2 linked regions of the Homo sapiens genome follow. The protein of the gene in region 1 interacts with the protein of each later gene in a pairwise test. Each region holds a gene or a part of one and is shown on either strand. Other genes may lie near its edges. The genes, in order: TBX5 and KDM6A.

Region 1 (9,989 bases):
ACCCTAGTACTTTGGATTTTTCTAGATATTTTTGATTCCGGATAAAGTGAATTTAGTAATGCATCCAAGGCACAGATATTAAGGCACAGAGTTACAGCTCCAATGCTCGCTCGCCATGTGACTGGATGAATCACCAGGTCATTCCAATCTCAGTTCTTGATTGTAAATGGAGATAATACCTGAACTTTTTATGAGATTTAATTGAGGTAATAATGAGGGCAGTTGAGTTTTTATCTTCCTTGCACATAAAGCATTCAAATCTTGTCTGTCCAAATGACCTGGGTCCATTCTCTTTTCCCTCTTTCTCTTTTGGAAGACTGGATAGATAGCTTTCTGAAAGTTGTCCCATACTTAATAGTATTTGGGTAGATTACAGAGCTGGAAAGCTCACAGAGTGCTTTTAAATACTAATCCTATTGAGCAAATATTTTCACTATTCCCAAATGGGTCATTTCTCTTGCCAATTCAGTTCATTCAGATGAAGAACCATTGGCGAGTCTTCCCAGACAGAGACCCTGAAACTCAGAGTAGTAATCTTTCTAGCTGAGTGACCTTCAGCAAGTTGGGAAGGTGGCTATAATTCAGGTCTTCTGACTCACAAAGCAGTGCTCATTCTGACAGATGGCCCCAGGCTTTCCATTTCACGCAACCCTACATGCTCAGCCAACATGAAAAGGTAGCAAACCTTGACTCTTATGGATGAGTGGGTGGATGAGTAGATGGATGGATGGGAGGATAGATGTATGGGTGGGTGGGTGGGTGGATGGATGGATGAATGAATGAGTGGGAGGATTGGTGGATGAGTGGGTGGATGGATGGGTGGTTGGATGGGTGGATGGATGCATGGATGGGTGGGTGGGTAGATGGGTGAATGGATGGGTGGGTTGATGGATGAGTGAGTGGTTGGGTAGGTGGATGGATGGGTTGATAGATGGGTGGGGGGATGGATAAGTGGGTGGATGGATAAGTGGATAGGTGGGGTGATGGCTGGATGGATGAGTGGGTAGATGGATGAGTGGGTGGATGGATGAGTGAGTGGATAGATAGATGAGTGATGGATGGGTGGATGGATGAATGAGTGAGTGGGTGGATGGGTGGGTGGATGGGTGAATGGTGGGTGGATGGATTGGTGGGTGGGTGGATGAGTGGGTGGATGACTTTTTGTTGTTGTTGTTTTTGTTGTTGTTGTTATTTGTTTTTGGTGTCCCCATGCTCTTAGCATAAAGTAGGAAGGGTTGGAATGGTATTGTGCGAAGATTCTCAACGAGAAATCAAAAGACTCAGTTTGAAACATCACCTAGTCACTACCTGAAACCAATAAATTTACTTACTGGCTTATTATATGTCTCATCCAGTAAGAATTCAAGTTTCTTGAGAGCGGGAGCCTTTTCCACCATGTCCTCCACTTATCCCAAGCACCTAGCACAGTGTCCATTATACATTAAGTGCTCAATAAATAAAGATTAATCTGATGCATCCATCCCAGATCTGCCAATCATCAGCCACATAAGCTTAAAATCTAACCCTGTCTCTTGGTCCTCCATTAGATCCCTGCAAAATAGAGATGGGTGGCATCTCCCCTAGTCCAAAGACTGCTGCAGGGAACTGGAGAATCAGCAAAGGAATGGATGTGAAATCGCATTTTAAAACATAGCACTCAGAAAATGCACCCTGCAAAGCCCTTTTCCATATCGAATTCCCCTTCCCCTCTCAATCTCTAACTTTCCTTTGAATATCTGATTCAGCTCATGGCTTTGCTAGAATCTTTATTTGGGTTGCTTTTAGTTTCTAATGCGAGTGGGGGTGAGAGTCAGGGGTGAGAGGGAGAAAGACAGACAAGTGCTCTCCCAGGCCCTGGGGTCCTGGATTTGATTGAGTGGCATTGATAAAAGACCTTCCCAGCTTTTTTGGCTCAGTCCATCGGGAGAGATAGTTTGGAGACAGCCGGTTCCAAACACAAGGAGCCCTCCGGCCTGCCTGGCCCTGTGACATTTCATTGGGCCTGACTCCTGGGCTCATTGGAAAGGAGACAGACAATGAGGGGAAGTCAGATAGTGGGGCAGGCAGGGGCCAGGGGGAAAACCACCCATGGAGTTATCACTTAATGAGAATCCCAACTGGAAGGAAACCTCGGCTGATTCCTTATCACTTTACAGTGTGGAGGCTGATGATGAATTGCTATTTGTTGTCTCCTAGGCAGGACAGAGAGCCCTCGGTTGGAATGTTCCCTGTCACTGGGAGCTCCCTTTTGGGGGTGGAGGGAGGTGAGAAGGGCAGAGTTTCTGGAAAGGTGAAAGGATTTCTCCAGGGTGCATACCCCATTCACCCTGAGCCCACAGGCCTCAGTATACATCTCAAGCTGGGCCACTCACGAGCTGAGTGACTTTGGGTAAGTTCCTCAGTGTTGGTTTCCAAATCCACAAAGAAGTGGGGTAATTCTTCACCTTGTTATCGCCAACCAGCCACTAAGGCCTGATTCCACCCACATCTCCAGCTTCTCCCCACACCCTGGTCGGAGCCACCATCTCCTGTTTCAGACCCCATGACAGCCTTTCAATGGGTCTCTGGTGCCAACTAAATAGTCCTGTGCTATCATAGCACAGTGACTGCTTCCAAATAAAGAACTTAGGCATGTTACTCACAAATTTAAATCCCTCCAATGGACGTGCACTGGTGGTAGGATAAAATCTGACATCTTTCATTAAAATGGCTTATACAGGCTGGCATCTCACTGGTCCCTGCCTTCCCCTCTAGCCCTCATCCCCCACCACTTTGCCCTTGCCTTGAGTGCCAACATCTCAGCCTTCTGTTCACTCCCCAGGGGGCAGGCTCTCCCTCAGCCAAGGGGCTTCATGCATGCTTTCCTCTATGTGTGGATACCCTCACACCTCCCCCTTCTCCTATCCAGCACTCAGTCTCCTCTGATCTCAGCCTCAATGCTTCCCTGATTGCCTACCCTAGACTGACACTCCAGTTTGATATTCCTTAACACTTTGCATATCTCCTTTATAGCATTCAATCATTTATTTTATTTTATTTATTTATTTTTTGAGACAGGGTCTCTCTCTGTCACACAGGCTGGAGTGCAGTGGTGCAATCACAGCTCACTGCAGCCTCGAACTCCTGGGCTCAAGCAATCCTCCCATCTCAGCCTCCTGGGTTGGCTAGGACCACTGGCATGTGCCAACATGCCAGACTAATTTTTTATTTTTTGTAGAGATGGAGTCTTACTATGTTGCCCAGGCTAGTCCCAACTCTTGGACTCAAGCAATCCTCCAGCCTCAGCCTCCCAAAATGCTGAGATTACAGGTGTGAGCCACAGTGCCAGGCTTCACAATTTCAATTAAGCAATTTATAATTACTTGTATAATGTCCAACCTGCTTGCAACCGTATGAGCTTCACAAGGGCAGGCCTGTGGCAAGCACATGTTCATTGAGCACTTGTAGGTGCCAGACACTGTTCTAGGTGCTTTCTGTGGATGATCTCATTTCCCCTCATCACAACCGTATCAAGCAGGTGCTATTGTTATCCTCATTTTGCACAAAAGATAGTTGAGGCCCAGAAAGGTAAAACAACTTGCCCCTGGGCACACAGCTGCCAAGTGTCGTCAACTGTGAGTATTACTACAGTGGATCAGCCCCCAACTCCAGCTTCCCCAGTGGCCACTCCAAGTTGATTTTAAGCTCATCCAAGGATCCAACAAACAGTCCATGAAAGTCAAGTCATAACCTAAGAGGTTTGTGAACCGTGCATTCAAAGCCTCCCTGCCGCATCCTTCAGGGATGCATTTATAAGGATGCTGCTGTAAATATTGAACCTAAAAAGCACCATGATCCTTTTTAACTTCTTCCTGCCTGTCTTTTGGTCTGGCATTAATTTAATCGATTAGAGCTCCCGAATTCAAACCTGGTGAGCTCTTAATCAGCATGTTTGACCCAGTCTCAAAGACAGATCTTCAGTGGAAAATGAAATTTTGAGATTGTAGCAGATGAGCAAAGGTAACCAAGACGGTATAGAGTAGTGGTGAAATGCACACGTATAGAATCTGCAGACCAGGCTGGGGTTCAAGAACCACTGGCAGTTTTTGTTTGGAACCTTTCTGAGCCTCAGTTTCCCCATTGATAAAGTGGGTTAATAATAGCATCTACTCCATAGTGTTGTCGAAAAAGCTTGATCTGGGACTTAGGAAGGGCACCCTTAAATATAATATAAAACAGAATCTCTATTCAGGGACCTGTGTCCCATAGGACATTCTTAACCTCCTGCTCATGCCTAAAGAGGCAGACATATTTGCAGGCATCTGGTCTCCAGTCCATCCGGCAGCAGACGTGCCGGGAGTCACGCCAGGGGGCCTGTTGGAGTGATATTGTTCAGGCCTTTGAGATTCAAGGAGTTTGGATTGGCTTCAGGTAAGTCTGGAAGTCAGGCCTCATCCAGGTCAGCTCCTAGCCCCATGTAAATACCAATGACAGCTCTTCCCTCCTTTAAAACGCAAGATTGGTAAATGTCAAATAGTCAAACTATGTTACTTTCCTCATGTAACCCCAGCTCCAGAAAAAGCTACCAAAGCATCCATTCCCATTGGTTGTTAGCGAGTTATTTTTTCCTAAAGGGCTAGGCACTGGGCACTGGATTCACAAAGGCTTGTGTTGACCACTGAGGCTGTGAGGTTCAACAGGCCACTTTGTAGATTAAAATTAGTGTCTTTTAGAGCAAAACAGCTACTACTTTCTGAGTCAACCCTGAGATAACATATGATGTGTATGATTTTTTGACATCTCTGCACCAAGCCTATGAGACAAGTCGTACCCTGAGCCCATATTTACAGATTTTTAAAAATGAGGCTTGGAAAGGTTAAGCAACTTGTCACTACTTATGAAAATTTTTAAATTGCAAAGGTGAACTTCATCCTGATTGATTCTACAGACCACAGATGTAAACTTTAGCCTACCCCATCCCTTCTGTATCTGTCTTCTCAAGCTCTCACCTAGAGAGGCAGTCTTCTCTGGGAAGACTGATTAAATTAATGCCAGTCCAAAGACAAGAGGCAGATTCCTCCTGGGAATCACCTTCTGGAGCGATATCTGCCACATACCCAATCATGGCTGCCACCTACTGCGTACTTGCTAACTATCAGATGCTTTAGGAAACATATCATTTACAAAGTGAGAAACTGAGGCTAGGAGAGGCTAGAACACCTGAGTGAGGTCACACAAGAAGCAGGGAGCAGAGATGAGATTCAAACCCGCATCTCTCTGTCCCCAAAGGCTGCAGTCTCCCCACCATACCATCTACAGCTCACACCAAGCAATGGTTCTATCGAGCTGAACTCCACCACACCACCTGTGCCAAACACTTCTATTCTGGCTCACAAGAAGGGCCACCAGAAAATTCTTTCTTTAGCTTAGCCCCTTTGGACTTGGATGACTTAGAAAAAAAAAAAAGCCATTTATTTCTCATGTGGCAAAGAAAACTGCGGAATGCCTCAGCTTAGTAGATTTAAATGGGGGATGAGACGGGGAAAATCATTTGTGATGTGTGTGTGTGTGTGTGTGTGTGTGTTGGTTTTGATCAGGAAAAAAAAAAAAAGAGTTCAAAATCCACCTGGGAGAAACACTGACACATATGCCAGAGAAGCATTGATAGTCACAAGGGGTTTTCCTGCATCACGGCTTGTAATACCATCAGGGACCACTCAAGCAACCTCCCTGCCTACCAGAGGGAGTGACAAAATAAACTCCATTTTATCCTTTCCAGTCAATTCTTCCTCCTTAGCAGTTAAAAATAAAATAAGGCAGTCTAGGTTCATAAAAAGATACCCAAAACACATTCTAAAGTTTAAAAGAAAAAAAACAGCAAGTTGCAAAATACATACAGTGTGATTTCATCTATATTAAAAGTTTTTAAAAAAAATTTTGGGTGTGGTGGCTCAGGCATGTAATCCCAGCACTTTGGGAAGCCAAGGCAGGTGGGTCACTTGAGCCCAGGAGGTTTAGACAAGCCTGGGCAACACAGTGAGACCCTGTCTCTACAACAACAACAAAAATTTAGTACAGTGTGTGAACGCATGCCTATAGTCCCAGCTACTAGGGAGGCTGATGTGAAAGGATCACTTAAGCCCAGGTGGTTGAGGCTGCAGTGAGCCATGACTACACCACTGCACTCCAGCCTGGGTGATAGAGCAAGATCCTGTCTCAAAAAAAAAAAAAAAAGAAAAAAAAAAGTAAAAATAAATCTAGTTCTTTCTCTGCACTCGCCACGTGTATGTGTGCATAAATGAATACAATAGGTCTGAACATTTCAAATAAGCTTTCTCCAAAGGAGGGGCTGGAACTGGGGGTAGGAACATGTCAAGGGAACTTTTTGTTTTAGCTGTTTGGTTTAAATTTCTTATCTCCATATATTTTTGTGTTGTTTACATTTTTAAATAAATAAAGTAAATAAATGAATACTCCTCACCCCCTCACCCCCAACCCAAGGAAAGGAAAAGGTAAGAAAGAAAGCAAATTGACCAGGGGTGATCACACTCACCTTTCCTCTTGGTACAATGGTAAATTTGGCTATGCTCCTGGGGCAGTGGGTATGGGTTGGGTGGAGGCAGGAGGTCCTGGGAGGGGCCGGAAACACCATTCTCACACTGGTATTGGGACCCCAAATTGGATGAGGTGGAGAGAGCTCGAGACTCGCTGCTGAAAGGACTGTGGTTGGAGGCCACTTTTTGCCTCACGGTGCTCCTGGGGACCACGGGATATTCTTTACTGAAAGAGAAAAGATGGGAGATAACGCCTATCAGTGCCCTGATACAGATTTCCTGAGTGGCTGAACCAGGTGTGAGAGAATCCACCAGAAAAGTCACAGAATAAGGAAAAAAAAGAGGTCTTTGATGAATAAAATGATCCAGTTATATTCATGTCCATCATATTTCACAAATGTATATTTGGGTACTAATTTTTCATGCCTTATACATTAGGCAAGTAGATTTACCAACAGTTCTATACCTCAGCAGAAAAGTAAATAAACACCCCCAGTTAAGAACCCCTTTTAACAATCAATAAACACACATGGTATTTTGAAATATGTCAATTTAGTCTATGTATGTCTTTAAATTCCCTAATTTGAAAGCTAGTTAATCTGAGTATTTATTTAGACTTAACCTGTGGGTGTCCATCTTTAAGGTGGGGCTCAGGTCATTGCCCAAAGTTAGTAAAAACTGGTAGCTGACAACCTAGGAAGGTCAGGTATAATCCTAAGTTACTCTCATCTGGATAGATTGCTGCTAGTGTCAGAATTTCCTCCTGAGCTTCTGTCCTTGTGGCCACTGATATACTTAACTTCTCCATACCTTAGTTTTCCCATCTGTAAAGTAGGGATAATGAATGTCCCCAGTTCAAAGGGCTGTTGATAGAAGAAACGGGTTAATGAGTTAACCATGAAAAGACTCAGAAAGGTACATGGCACAGAGTAAATGCTCAACAAATGGCAACCATCGTCATTACTGTTATTGTTTTGGGCAGAGAGAATAGAGGGAGGGAAAAAAGAGAGGGAAAGAAAATGAGAAAGAAGGAGGAACAAGGACATAGAAGATTTAAAAAGAAAGAAAGAAAAAAGAAACAAAAAAGGAAAGAAAGAAAAGAAAAGAAAAAATCAGCATGGGATCTAAGATTACGCAGCTCCCAATTCAGGCCCCATCCCTATCCCTTACAGGCTGTGTGTCCATCTGACACACAACCCTCCCCTGAGCTTCAGGGCTCACACAGGCAAAGTAAGCATAATAAAAATTCCATGACATCATAGGTATAGCATCCCTCAGTGTGCTCAAAATCTGGCCCCTCACACTCTTAGGACTGGTCCTCCACATTCCCTTACCTTCAGATTTCATACCAGGTGTTCCCATTTTTTTTCCTCAGAAGGACTCAGTAGAAACCTCTCCTGGGAAGAAGGAAAGTCGTGCTGTGCAGCAGCAGGAGGCTCAAAGGAAATGAGAGAGGTGGGGAATGGATGGGATGTGGAAGGTTGCAGAGGAGTAGAGAGAAGGTGGGGGTGGGGGTGCTTCAAGATAGAAGGGACAAAGAGAGAAATATCCAAGTATGTGAGAGAAGAAGAGCTTGACCCCTAACATCCCATATCCAGCATTTAGGATGGGGATAGGGAATCTTGGGCATGGCATTTACAAACTGCATATATTGCTAAACAGCCATTTAAAACATATTTTGGTAACTATATTTCAAATATAATTGGCTTCTCTTGTAACCTATGTATTCTATTTCATGCATTTAATCATATTATTCTTAGAGATGATTCATAGGCTTCAACACACTGCCAGAGAGGCCCATGGCATCAAACAGTTTAAGAACCCCTATCCTAGAAGGAGCATGTGTCAGTAAATCCCAAACTTCAGTCAGACACAATTTTCACCATGACATACAGCCATCTATTCTTTAACTTATGACATTTTAAAAATTAATCATTTATCTAAATAAGTTAAGCTTCACTATAAGTGATCATATCTGTGAAATTACAGGCTTGTGGTGCTAATTATAGTTATTTTAATGCAATTAAGACGAATGTTTATGTGCCTATGGTCATAGCAACTCAGGAGGCTGAGGCAAGAGGATTGCTTGAGCCCAGGAGTTTGAGGCTGCAGTGAGCTATGACTGCACCATTGCACTCCAGCCTGGGTGACAGAGTGAAACCCTGTCTCAATCAATCAATCAATCAATCAATCAATCAATGCTTAACTATTAAAATTAAAGAGTATACCTGAAATAATATCATGCGCAAAGAGCTACACGTAACGCATTTTGAAGGATCTTGAATTCGTCCATTTCATCCTTTCTATGACTCTATGTGATAGGTATTATCTTTGATCCCATTTTACAGATGAGGAAGTTGAGGCCCAGGGAGATGAAGCAACTTGTTCAAGATCACAGAGTTAGAAAGAGACACAACTAGAATTCTAATCCAATCATTTCCTCATAACTTTTGCATTGTATCCTAATGATGTCTTTCAATTTTTAGAACACAATATGCTTTTAGGGGAGCAGGGTTTTGGGGTACAAGACTCTTTCTACTTCTACCCCCTCAAGTGTGTGAACATCTCCACCCTATGTCCCTGCCTTTGTTTGTCATGTGAAAGCACACCAGAGTGGCCAGGCAGGAACACAGAGCATCTGCCAAGTTTCCATGAGTCTACAGACACCCTCAGGACACCCAGGGGTCTCCTAGCCCAGCTTCCCTGTGCCATCTCAGAACCAAAGCTGGAGCCATCCGAGCAGCCGCACCAGTCAGAATCTCCCCCTGGGGCCAGGAGGCTGAAGGGAATGGAATTAGCTTTACAGCTCTTGCTTTGTGGTTCAAGCTACGTAATGGAAAAAAAAAAGAAAAAAAGAAAAAGAAGAAAAATTATAATAACAATAAAACATTATAAAAGTTGTCAAAACTTGCCGACAATTCTATTTAGATCTATTTAGTTCCAATATTTTGCTGTCAGAGCTCCAAGAGGAAGGGGGAAATCTCTTTTGGTTTTATATTTTTAATAGGAACAGTTTTTCTTTTTAATTAAAGAAAATAACCTCCAAAAAATGTTGGCTGAGAGAGTTTACAAGAGAATGTATCAATGGACTCCGTGGAATTCTCCGTTCCAGTACAGCCAAATTGCAAAATTGCTCTCTGGAAAGGCCAAGTCCTGCTTTTGATTACTAACACAGAAGTGGGAAAAGCAATATCATCCCAATAACCACTTGTCCCTCACAGCTTGTTTCCCTCTAAAGAGCCTGAAACATCATCCCCAACACCGATCGTGAACATCTCTGTTAATGCCTGAAATACGATGTCCCCAAACCCCTCTGACAAGTGTCAAAATATGGGCATGGAATGGGGAAGTGACTTCTCAATCATTATAGAATTACACATGCAAAGGAAAGAAAATGTTAGAATCAAACAACAGCGGGGCAATTTTCACAGAGCTCATCCATGGATCAAAGGAACG
Region 2 (9,989 bases), on another chromosome or scaffold:
TCAGAGTCTTCCAGAAGCTAGAGTTTAGGGGAGGAGAGGGCTGGTGAAGTGTGCCTAGAAGATAGGTTATGAAGAGGGGAGGGTGAAATAAGAGGCTGAGGGAGAGGCCAAATTTATCTTGAAGGCAAAGTTGATCCACTAAAGTTTTTGAAACAGAGTAATGAATTGCATGCACATTATTTTTGTCAAGGAAATGGGTCATAATGTATTCAACGTTAGCACATTCGTTAGACATTTAATTTCTAAGTTTTTACTTCTGAATGTTTATGTGCATAGTATTTCCCATATTTTGGATTGTTTCCATGATATGGGTACTCGCTGAGGTGAAACTGAAGGGCCAAAGAGTAAGTTTTAAGAAAATGCTCTCAATATGTATAGCCAAATTGCTTGTACTTTTATTAATTTACTATGAGAAATATTTGACTTAAAAAGAGAAATATTTGGCTGATTGTCGGTTAGTCTTATATTATTGATAAAACTGAAATAAGTTCTTTTTCTAAGATTTTTAAGTTTATTCTTGAATTAATATCCTTGGTGGGACCCTGATCTAAAGTGATTAGTACTTTATTCATTCTTAGAGAAATACTGAGTACCTACTAGGTTCATTTCCTACTCAAGGCTCTGGGAATACATCAATAAAGAAAATATACTGAGATGTCTCTACTTGGTGTAGGTAAATAGATAGTAAACAAATAAGCAATACATATATAACATTAGATGATGGTTGTGATTAGTGCTATGGAAAAAAGCACTAATAGAAAGGGAACAGCAGAATACTAGAGATTGGTGGTAGGAGAGTTGCAGTTATAAATCAGAAGGGCAGGGAAGGCTTCTCTGAAAGATAGCATTTGGATGAGAGTTACAGGAGTGAGCCTTGAAGCTATTTGTGATAAGATTGTTCCAGGTCTAGGGAGCAGCACGGAGCAATGGACCCTAAGGTAGGATTGTGCTGTGCACATTTGAGGAGAATCAAGGTGGCAAGCATGGCAGAACAGGACAGGCAAGGAGTGAGAAGAGAGAGAAATGTGCTCCAGCTGGAAACAGGATGGCTAAATCATGATCAGCCTTATAAGGATACTGGATTTTATTCTGAGTATCCAGGAAACCGTAGGGGGATTTTGAACAGAGGAGTGATGTGATCTAACTTTGTTTTTGACTAGGTCCTCTTTGGTACTCTGTGGATAGACTGAAAGAGGCAAAAGTAGAAATGGTATGACCATTTTAGAGATTATACCTGTAATCCAGGTTAAAAGTTGATGATGGCTCCCAGAGTGGTAGTAGTAGATGGTGGTCAGCTTCTGGGTATATTTGGAAGGTACAGCCAACAGGATTAGTTGATATAGAGTGATGTGTGAGAAAGGAGTCCCAGCTGGCCTGACCAACTAGAAGGATGGATGAAACTGGATGGTATCACCAATCAGTGAGAACAGATTGAGAAAAGAACTCAAGATTGAGCCTTAGGGCATTCCAGTGTATTAGGCTAGGAAATTGAAGAACTAGCAGAGAAGAATAGAAGAGATTGACCTGTGACATAGTAGGAGATCAAAGACAATGTGAGTGATGCCCTGGAAGCCAAATGAAGAAAGTTTCAAGGAGGAGGACATGATCAAATAATGCTCATAGGTCATATAAAGTGAGGACTGAAAACTGACCATCTGAGATATTTGCTGACATTATTGGAGTAAGGAAACTACAGGTTACAGGCAAAATTTACCCCACGACCTGTGTTTTTTATAACCCGTGAGCTAAGAATGATTTTTATATTTTTGAAGGGTTGTAAAAAAAGAATAATATATGATACTGGGTGACCCACAAAGCCTAAAATATTTGCTATCTGATCCTTTACAGAAAAGATATGCTGACCATTGGATAAGGGCAATTTCAGTGGATTGTTGGGGTGCAAAAGCCTAATTGTAGTTCGCTTCAAGATAATATAAAATCGGCAGAGAAAAACTGAAGTAGCAAGTATAGACAGTTCCAGCACACATGCTTACAGTTGTTTGGGCTACACACTGCACAGTGCCAAGGCTTCCATTTCCATATACCGTGGCATAAAAGAGAACAACAACCGGGTGTAGCTGACAGGGAAAATGGGATTAGGAGTTGTTGTCTTGTTGTTGTTTTAAATTTAAAATGAGAGAAATAACAGTAAAAGTCAATGGGAAAGATTCAGTAGAGAGGGAGAAAATGGCAAAGGAGAAAGGGGAATTGTTAGAATGGGTGAGAGGATGGGATTTTGGGGGTTCATTGTCTTTAAGCATTAAACAGTTGTTAAAAGGATAACACGAGATTTTTGTTAAAATGCCTATCATAGTTCTAAGGTATAACTGGCAGTTAATAAGTGAAAGCCTTTGTTATGATTGTAAAGCATAGTTCTATTTTCTTTTCTCTCACATCTACTTCTTTGGCTCACTTAGTTGCTGAAGTTTTCAATACTCTCTTAACCCTGTTTTGGAAATGTGGGATTCTTTAAAAACGTAATTCGTAATTCTAATAAAAAGGAACTCCTCAGTTGGCAGGCCACGAGGCTTCTGTAATTTACCATACTAAGTAGCAGGGAGCCCCCAGCCTTTGCTTCACACGCCCTTCAAAGCCATTATCTGTAGGAACTTTACAATTTAAGTAATGAGGTTGAGAGAGTTGTTTAGAAAATGATGTTGAACTGATTCCAGGTCAAAAGTTTCCCAAATGAAGTTTCTGCATATCACTACAGCTGGGAAGCCTCTGTCTCTGCTGTTGATATATGGTATTAATATCATAGACTCTAAAGAGGCCTTTTTGGTAACTTGTCTTATACAAACCTATTTGAATAATTTTTGAAATTGTAATGAAAACTAGACAACTGGTAGACCTATATGGTATATCTACCTTTTAGTTTTTGATCAAGGGAGGAATTTACATTACAGTGTGGAATGGGTTTATTCAGATTGCTTTTGGTAGCAAGGGTATAATTTAAGATATGAAAGTAAAATTATATTAATTGTAGGTGATTATTCAGCAAGTACTCTAAAGAATTTGTAGCTTAAAATACCTTGATTTGCAGATAGAGAAGATGTAATAAAATAGTTACTTTGTCACATTTCTGCATATTGTAATCAGTGTATTTGTTAAATAATTGGCCTCTGAATTAAATATTTTACATTTGATGAAATTTTAACTCACCTACCCAGACTTTCTTGGATAATATTTTAAATATTGATATGATTATAATATGCAGTGTTTTTGCTTTATGAGAAATTTTCATGTAACTTACAAATTTCAACCTTCCTTTATTATGATTGAACTTTGTTACTTATTAAATCATTTACAACTAATTGCACTCCTTTACACACTCACTGGTGTGTATCTTTTTTTTGTTTTTTTTTTTTTTTTTGAGATGGAGCCTGGCTCTGTCGCCAAGCCTGGAGTGCAGTGGTGCGATCTTGGCTCACTGCAACCTCCGCCTCCTAGGTTCAAGTGATTCTCCTGCCTCAGCCTCCCGAGTAGCTGGGATTACAGGTGCCCACCACCATGCCCGGCTAATTTTTGTATTTTAATAGAGACAGGGCTTCACCATGTTGACCAGGCTGGTCTTGAACTTCTGACCTTAGGTGATCTGCCTGCCTTGGCCTCCCAATGTGCTGGGATTCCAGGTGTGAGCCACTGCGCCTGGCCAATGTGTATCAACTTTTAATATATCTAGTGTTTTAGGTAGATAAGCCTATTGAGTAAAAACATTAGTTTAAAATTTTCAGCTTCAGAAACTGATTTTAGGGGCATGCTAGCTGACTTTAACTAGATGATTAAATGCACCTTTTAGTATATAAATATCTTGTTATCAGCTATAGTTTTATTCTTTTATAGCTTATTACTGACAAAATGCTCTAACCTTGTTGCTGAAGTAATCTCAACTCCAAATGTAAACTCGTTTTATGATTCCAATGTTACTTTAATCAGTGTTGCTGAAAAATTGGCTGTCCTATTTAATTATTTTGTAAGTAAAATGAAATGAAAATATTCTTCTTAAAGAAGTTTCTCTGTGACACCAGAGGCAAATTTCAGGTAAAAATTAGTTCCAGTTATCATATTTTCATTCTATTAAATGCCCTAAGTGATCTTCCTCTAGTCTTAAAACTTCTATTAACTGTTAGTATACTGCCCCCTCAGATTGCTTTAACAGTAGCAGTGTATTTTTCTAAGTTTTCAAATTCAGGTGATGAAAAATAAAGTTTATCTCAAAGTCATTAGTGGAGACTTAAAATGTCTTTTTCTCCCCTTTTTTTTTAAAAAAAAAAAAAAAAAAGAGAGACACAAGGTTCTGCTCTGTCACCCAGGCTGGAGTACAGTGGCACCATCTTAGCTCACTGCTGGCTCAAACTCCTGGGCTCAAGAGATCCTCCCACCTTGGCCTCCTGTGTAGCTGGACTACAGGCACACTTGTCAACACACCTAGCTTGTCTGCCTGCTTTCCTTCCCTCTCTCCCCTCTCTCCCTCCTCTCTCCTCTCTCTTCTTTCTCTTTCTCTTTCTCTTTCTCTTTCTCTTTCTCTTTCCCTTTCCCTTTCCCTTTCCCTTTCCCTTTCTCTCTCTCTTTTTCTTTTGTGGAGACGGAGTCTCATTGTGTTGCCCAGCCTGGTCTCGAACTCCTGGCCTCAAACGATCCTCCTGCCTCGGCCTTCCAGAGTGCTGGGATTACAGACATAAGCCACTGCACCAAGCCTATCTAGTCTTCTAAATATGTGTGGATGGATAGATGGGGAAACTTTAGGTATTTTTTGAAATATTTTCATAGATTTAATAGTTCTGCCCTTAATTTTGAGGATAGCTACTTTAACAATAGGATTTGAATTACAGAAGATTATATTTTAATGATAATTTTAAAGGCTTAATGAACTCACTTTCTATATTAATCTTTTAACAGATCACAGACCAGTGAGAGTTGGTTTATGTTGATCCATGGTCATAGCTTTTAATTATTAATGATGATATATGTCTATCCATGTCTGATTTTAGAGATGAAAATATGTATATTGGAACTTAAAATTTGTAATGCTTCATCTGAAGTAGTTTATTCTACACTAATAATGGAGTCATTTTAGATAGCAAGGAAGAAAAATTTCTCTAAAGATGTTAAATACTGATTAGCTAAGTTGCAGGTACTTTTTGATAACTTTAGGACTTGGGTCAAATTATCTTATACAGTTAGATATTTATTTTTAGTGGCTTTTCTCTTTAATATTTTAAATTCTGTATATTCTGAGTTTGCTTAATATTAGATTTAAACTATTTTTCTTTCTTTTTAGGGGCTTCACAAAGGTCAGAGTTCACATTCGGCAGGTCCTAATGGTGAACGACCTCTCTCTTCCACTGGGCCTTCCCAGCATCTCCAGGCAGCTGGCTCTGGTATTCAGAATCAGAACGGACATCCCACCCTGCCTAGCAATTCAGTAACACAGGGGGCTGCTCTCAATCACCTCTCCTCTCACACTGCTACCTCAGGTGGACAACAAGGCATTACCTTAACCAAAGAGAGCAAGCCTTCAGGAAACATATTGACGGTGCCTGAAACAAGCAGGCACACTGGAGAGACACCTAACAGCACTGCCAGTGTCGAGGGACTTCCTAATCATGTCCATCAGATGACGGCAGATGCTGTTTGCAGTCCTAGCCATGGAGATTCTAAGTCACCAGGTTTACTAAGTTCAGACAATCCTCAGCTCTCTGCCTTGTTGATGGGAAAAGCCAATAACAATGTGGGTACTGGAACCTGTGACAAAGTCAATAACATCCACCCAGCTGTTCATACAAAGACTGATAACTCTGTTGCCTCTTCACCATCTTCAGCCATTTCAACAGCAACACCTTCTCCAAAATCCACTGAGCAGACAACCACAAACAGTGTTACCAGCCTTAACAGCCCTCACAGTGGGCTACACACAATTAATGGAGAAGGGATGGAAGAATCTCAGAGCCCCATGAAAACAGATCTGCTTCTGGTTAACCACAAACCTAGTCCACAGATCATACCATCAATGTCTGTGTCCATATACCCCAGCTCAGCAGAAGTTCTGAAGGCATGCAGGTTAGTGTGGGAAAGTTCATCAAAGTGAAAATGTTTGACTTACTGGCATGATCAGAATGCTGAAATTTGGACCGTTTAAGATATGGGAAGTAAGCAAAAGATGGTGTAGTCATTCATCTAAGAGTTTGACAGAAGCTTTATTTTGCTTAGATGTTGTAGTCAAATCAGATGTGAGAAGTATTCCTGTAAATTGCTTATTTTGAGTGGGTGTGTCTGATTGTGCTGTTACTGCCCTCTACTGGTTACTAGGTTGTCAGCTTCAGTGTGATTGACTTCGCTCTGGGGATTTAAACAAGAGAATGGGTTAAATCATATTTGGCCAAATACAGCAAGGCTGGAAAACCCTATGGGTTTTTTTTTTTTTTTTATCAGAGCCTATTAAATGTTAGGCTAGGAATGGACCCCATCACTTATCAAGGCTAGTCTTTGCTTACAATTGAGAAAACTGGACTGTTTGAATCTAGAAGAGGTTATAAAGCAGGCAGAAGAGGAAGGAAGAGGTCAGGGGCAATGGGCAGTGGAGAGACATGACAGACTGTCAGCCATTCTGGAAGGAGCCAGACATATTCTGCTAGTCTAGGAAGGGCAGGGCCTCAGAAATTTATGAAGAAATGAACCTCCTCTGTCCCACAAAAGAAGAATCAAAGGATCAGGCAGCATCATCTTTCTCTGATATTTGGAGGACATATAGATTCTTACTGGCCTTTTCATTGTATATGACACATATATAATTTTTCTCATTTACTTGTAGTTGTTGTCCTCTATAAGTGACTAAATCTTGAATGAAATTTAGTTAACATAACTGGAACAAACAAATAATTCTGTAATATTTTCTGATACATTAAATGTTAAGTTTGAGCAGACATATAGTAGATTTTAAAAAGATCTTTTTTTGGTTGTAGATTGTCATGATATATAGAAAATAACCATTCTATAAATAGAAATTATAAACATTAGTTCTAGTTTGGCTACATTGACCATTTAATATAGCTTTTACATTTTAAAGTTCAAAACAATTCTTATTTATAGCCATATAAACCTCTTCCTGCAGTTGCTAGTACTTATATGTCTTATTTATTGTTATGTAAAAGTGTGATTATCTTTTCTGTTGTTCAGATTATTTTATTAGAAGGTATCCTGGGTCTACCGTTAAATGTTTGTCACTGACGAATGATTGAGGTGAAATTAAATTTTATTTATATATAAGTTTGCTGCTTGGGAGGGATGTGGGGTAGGAGCAATGGAGTATGGAGAAGAAATTTCAATTAATTTAAATTTATCGCTTTAATTGTGACACTAGAACTTTACTATAAATTACACTATAGTCATTTTTCTTTAAAGAGTTTGAGTGTTAAAAATACCTTTTGGTCTGTGTTTTCTTTTCTTTTCTTGTCTTTTCTTGTCTTTTCTTGTCTTTTCTTGTCTTTTTTTAAGACAGTTTCGCTCTTGTTGCCCAGGCTGGAGTGCAATGGCGCGATTTCAACTTACCGCACGCTCTGCCTCCCAGGTTCAAGCGATTCTCCTGCCTCAAGCCTCCCAAGTAGCTGGGTGGGATTACAGGCATGCAGCACCACACCTGGCTAATTTTGTATTTTTTAGTAGAGACGGGGTTTCTCCATGTTGGTCAGGCTGGTCTTGAACTCCCAACCTCAAGTGTTCCACCTGCCTCTGCCTCCCAAAGTGCTGGGATTACAGGCGTGAGCCACTGTGCCCAGCTGGTCTTTGTTTCATTTTCTATTAGTTTCTATTTCTGTTAGTTTCTATTTCATTATTTCCTGTCAAATTTTAACTATTTAGTTGTTATTCTGACATAGACTAGGGCAGAAATTACATCCTTTTTTATATTTTATTTTTTTCTTTATTGGGTCCACGTTGTTGGCAGCATTTTCCTTAGTGACCTACAACATGGTGATTGCTGTAATTAATCTTAACTGTCTTACAAGATTTTTTAAGGTCAGTAACTTAAGAGGACATTGGATGATCTCTAAATGAAATTCTTCTAAAGCATATAGTGAGGTTCTTGAGTTCCTAAAATTTGTTTCTTTAGAAATTTTTATATTATAGGTTTTTATATTAGTTTTTTTTTTGAAGTTAGGCTATCATTCAGTTCAACTCTGGGCCTACAGAAAATAGGGAGTGTTCAGATTAAATGCTACACTTGGCTCTCCTTAGACAGTGCCTTGATTCACTGCCAGTTTGACTGTCTTCTACCTGCTCCTCACTCATCTGCTGGGGCCTCTGTCCTGTTTCCTAGGTACTGCTGCTCTAACTGCTGGAGCAGGGGCTTTCTCTCTCATCCACTCTCTGTAGACTCAGGACAGTTGCTAGAAAATGGGGAAGATTTGGAGGTTCAAAACTAACATCATGAACTGCATGGGACCTAAGGAGGAATATTGTCAGAAAGAGTTCCATGGAGCTATGTTCTGTTCCCCAAGTTACAAACTGTGTATAGTAGCAGTTTTCATAAGTTTGTATTAATAAATTGTATATTATTTAAAAAAATATAATAATATATATATATATACATATATATACTTTAAGTTCTAGGGTACATGTGCACAATGTGCAGGCTCGTTTCATAGGTATACATGTGCCATGCTGGCCAGCTGCACCCATCAACCTGTCATTTACATTAGATATTTCTCCCAATGCTATCCCTCCCCCTGCCTTCCACCCCACAGCAGGCCCCGGTGTGTGATGTTCCTCACCCTGTGTCCATGTGTTCTCATTGTTCAGTTCCTAGCTATGAGTGAGAACATGCAGTATTTGGTTTTCCGTCCTTGTGATAATTTGCTCAGAATGATGGTTTCCAGCTTCATCCATGTCCCTGCAAAGGACATGAACTCATCCTTTTTTATGGCTGCATAGTATTCCATGGTGTATGTGTGCTGCATTTTCTTAATCCAGTCTATCATTGATGGACATTTGGGTTGGTTCCAAGTCTTTGCTATTGTGAATAGTGCCACAATAAACATACGTGTGCGTGTGTCTTTATAGTAGCATGATTTATAATCCTCTGGGTATATACCCAGTAATGAATGGGATTGCTGGGTCAAATGGTATTCTAGCTCTTGATCCTTGAGGAATCTCCACACTGTCTTCCACAATGGTTGAGCTAGTTTACACTCCCAGCAGTGTAAAAGTGTTCCTATTTCTCCACATCCTCTCCAGCATCTGTTGTTTCCTGACTTTTTAATGATTGCCATTCTAACTGGTGTGAGATGGTTATCTCATTGTGGTTTTGATTTGCATTTCTCTGATCACCTGTGATGATGAGCATTTTTTCATGCGTCTTTTGGCTGCATAAATGTCTTCTTTTGAGAAGTGTCTGTTATATCCTTTGCCCACTTTTGGATGGGGTTGTTTGTTTTTTTCTTGTAAATTTGTTTAAGTTCTTTGTAGATTCTGGATATTAGCCCTTTGTCAGAATGGATAGATTGCAAAAGTTTTCTCCCGTTCTGTAGGTTGCCTGTTCACTCTGATGGTAGTTTCTTTTGCTGTGCAGAAGCTCTTTAGTTTAATTAGATCCCATTTGTCTATTTTGGCTTTTGTTGCCATTGCTTTTGGTGTTTTAGTCATGAAGTCCTTGCCCATGCCTATGTCGTGAATGGTATTGCCTAGGTTTTCTTCTAGGGTTTTTATGGTTTTAGGTCTAACGTTTAAGTCTTTAATCCATCTTGAATTAATTTTTGTAAAAGATGTAAGGAAGGGATCCCGTTTCAGCTTTCTACATATGACCAGCCAGTTTTCCCAGCACCATTTATTAAATAGGGAATCCTTTCCTCATTTCTTGTTTTTGTCAGGTTTGTCAAAGATCAGATGATTGTAGATGTGTGGTGTTATTTCTGAGGCCTCTGTTCTGTTCCATTGGTCTATATCTCTCTTTTGGTACCAGTACCATGCTGTTTTGGTCCAAAATCTGCTTCTTT

What was found.
Region 2: the proteins of TBX5 (region 1) and KDM6A interact in a two-hybrid assay, tested with the Homo sapiens proteins (one study listed by BioGRID).

What each region holds. Positions count from the first base shown.
Region 1 is NC_000012.12:114,359,633-114,369,621, forward strand, and holds part of TBX5 (T-box transcription factor TBX5), read right to left. Parts: intron 6,760-9,989; coding exon 6,533-6,759; intron 1-6,532. UniProt on the Homo sapiens protein: DNA-binding protein that regulates the transcription of several genes and is involved in heart development and limb pattern formation. Binds to the core DNA motif of NPPA promoter.
Region 2 is NC_000023.11:45,064,298-45,074,286, forward strand, and holds part of KDM6A (lysine-specific demethylase 6A), read left to right. Parts: intron 1-5,281; coding exon 5,282-6,060; intron 6,061-9,989. UniProt on the Homo sapiens protein: Histone demethylase that specifically demethylates 'Lys-27' of histone H3, thereby playing a central role in histone code. Demethylates trimethylated and dimethylated but not monomethylated H3 'Lys-27'.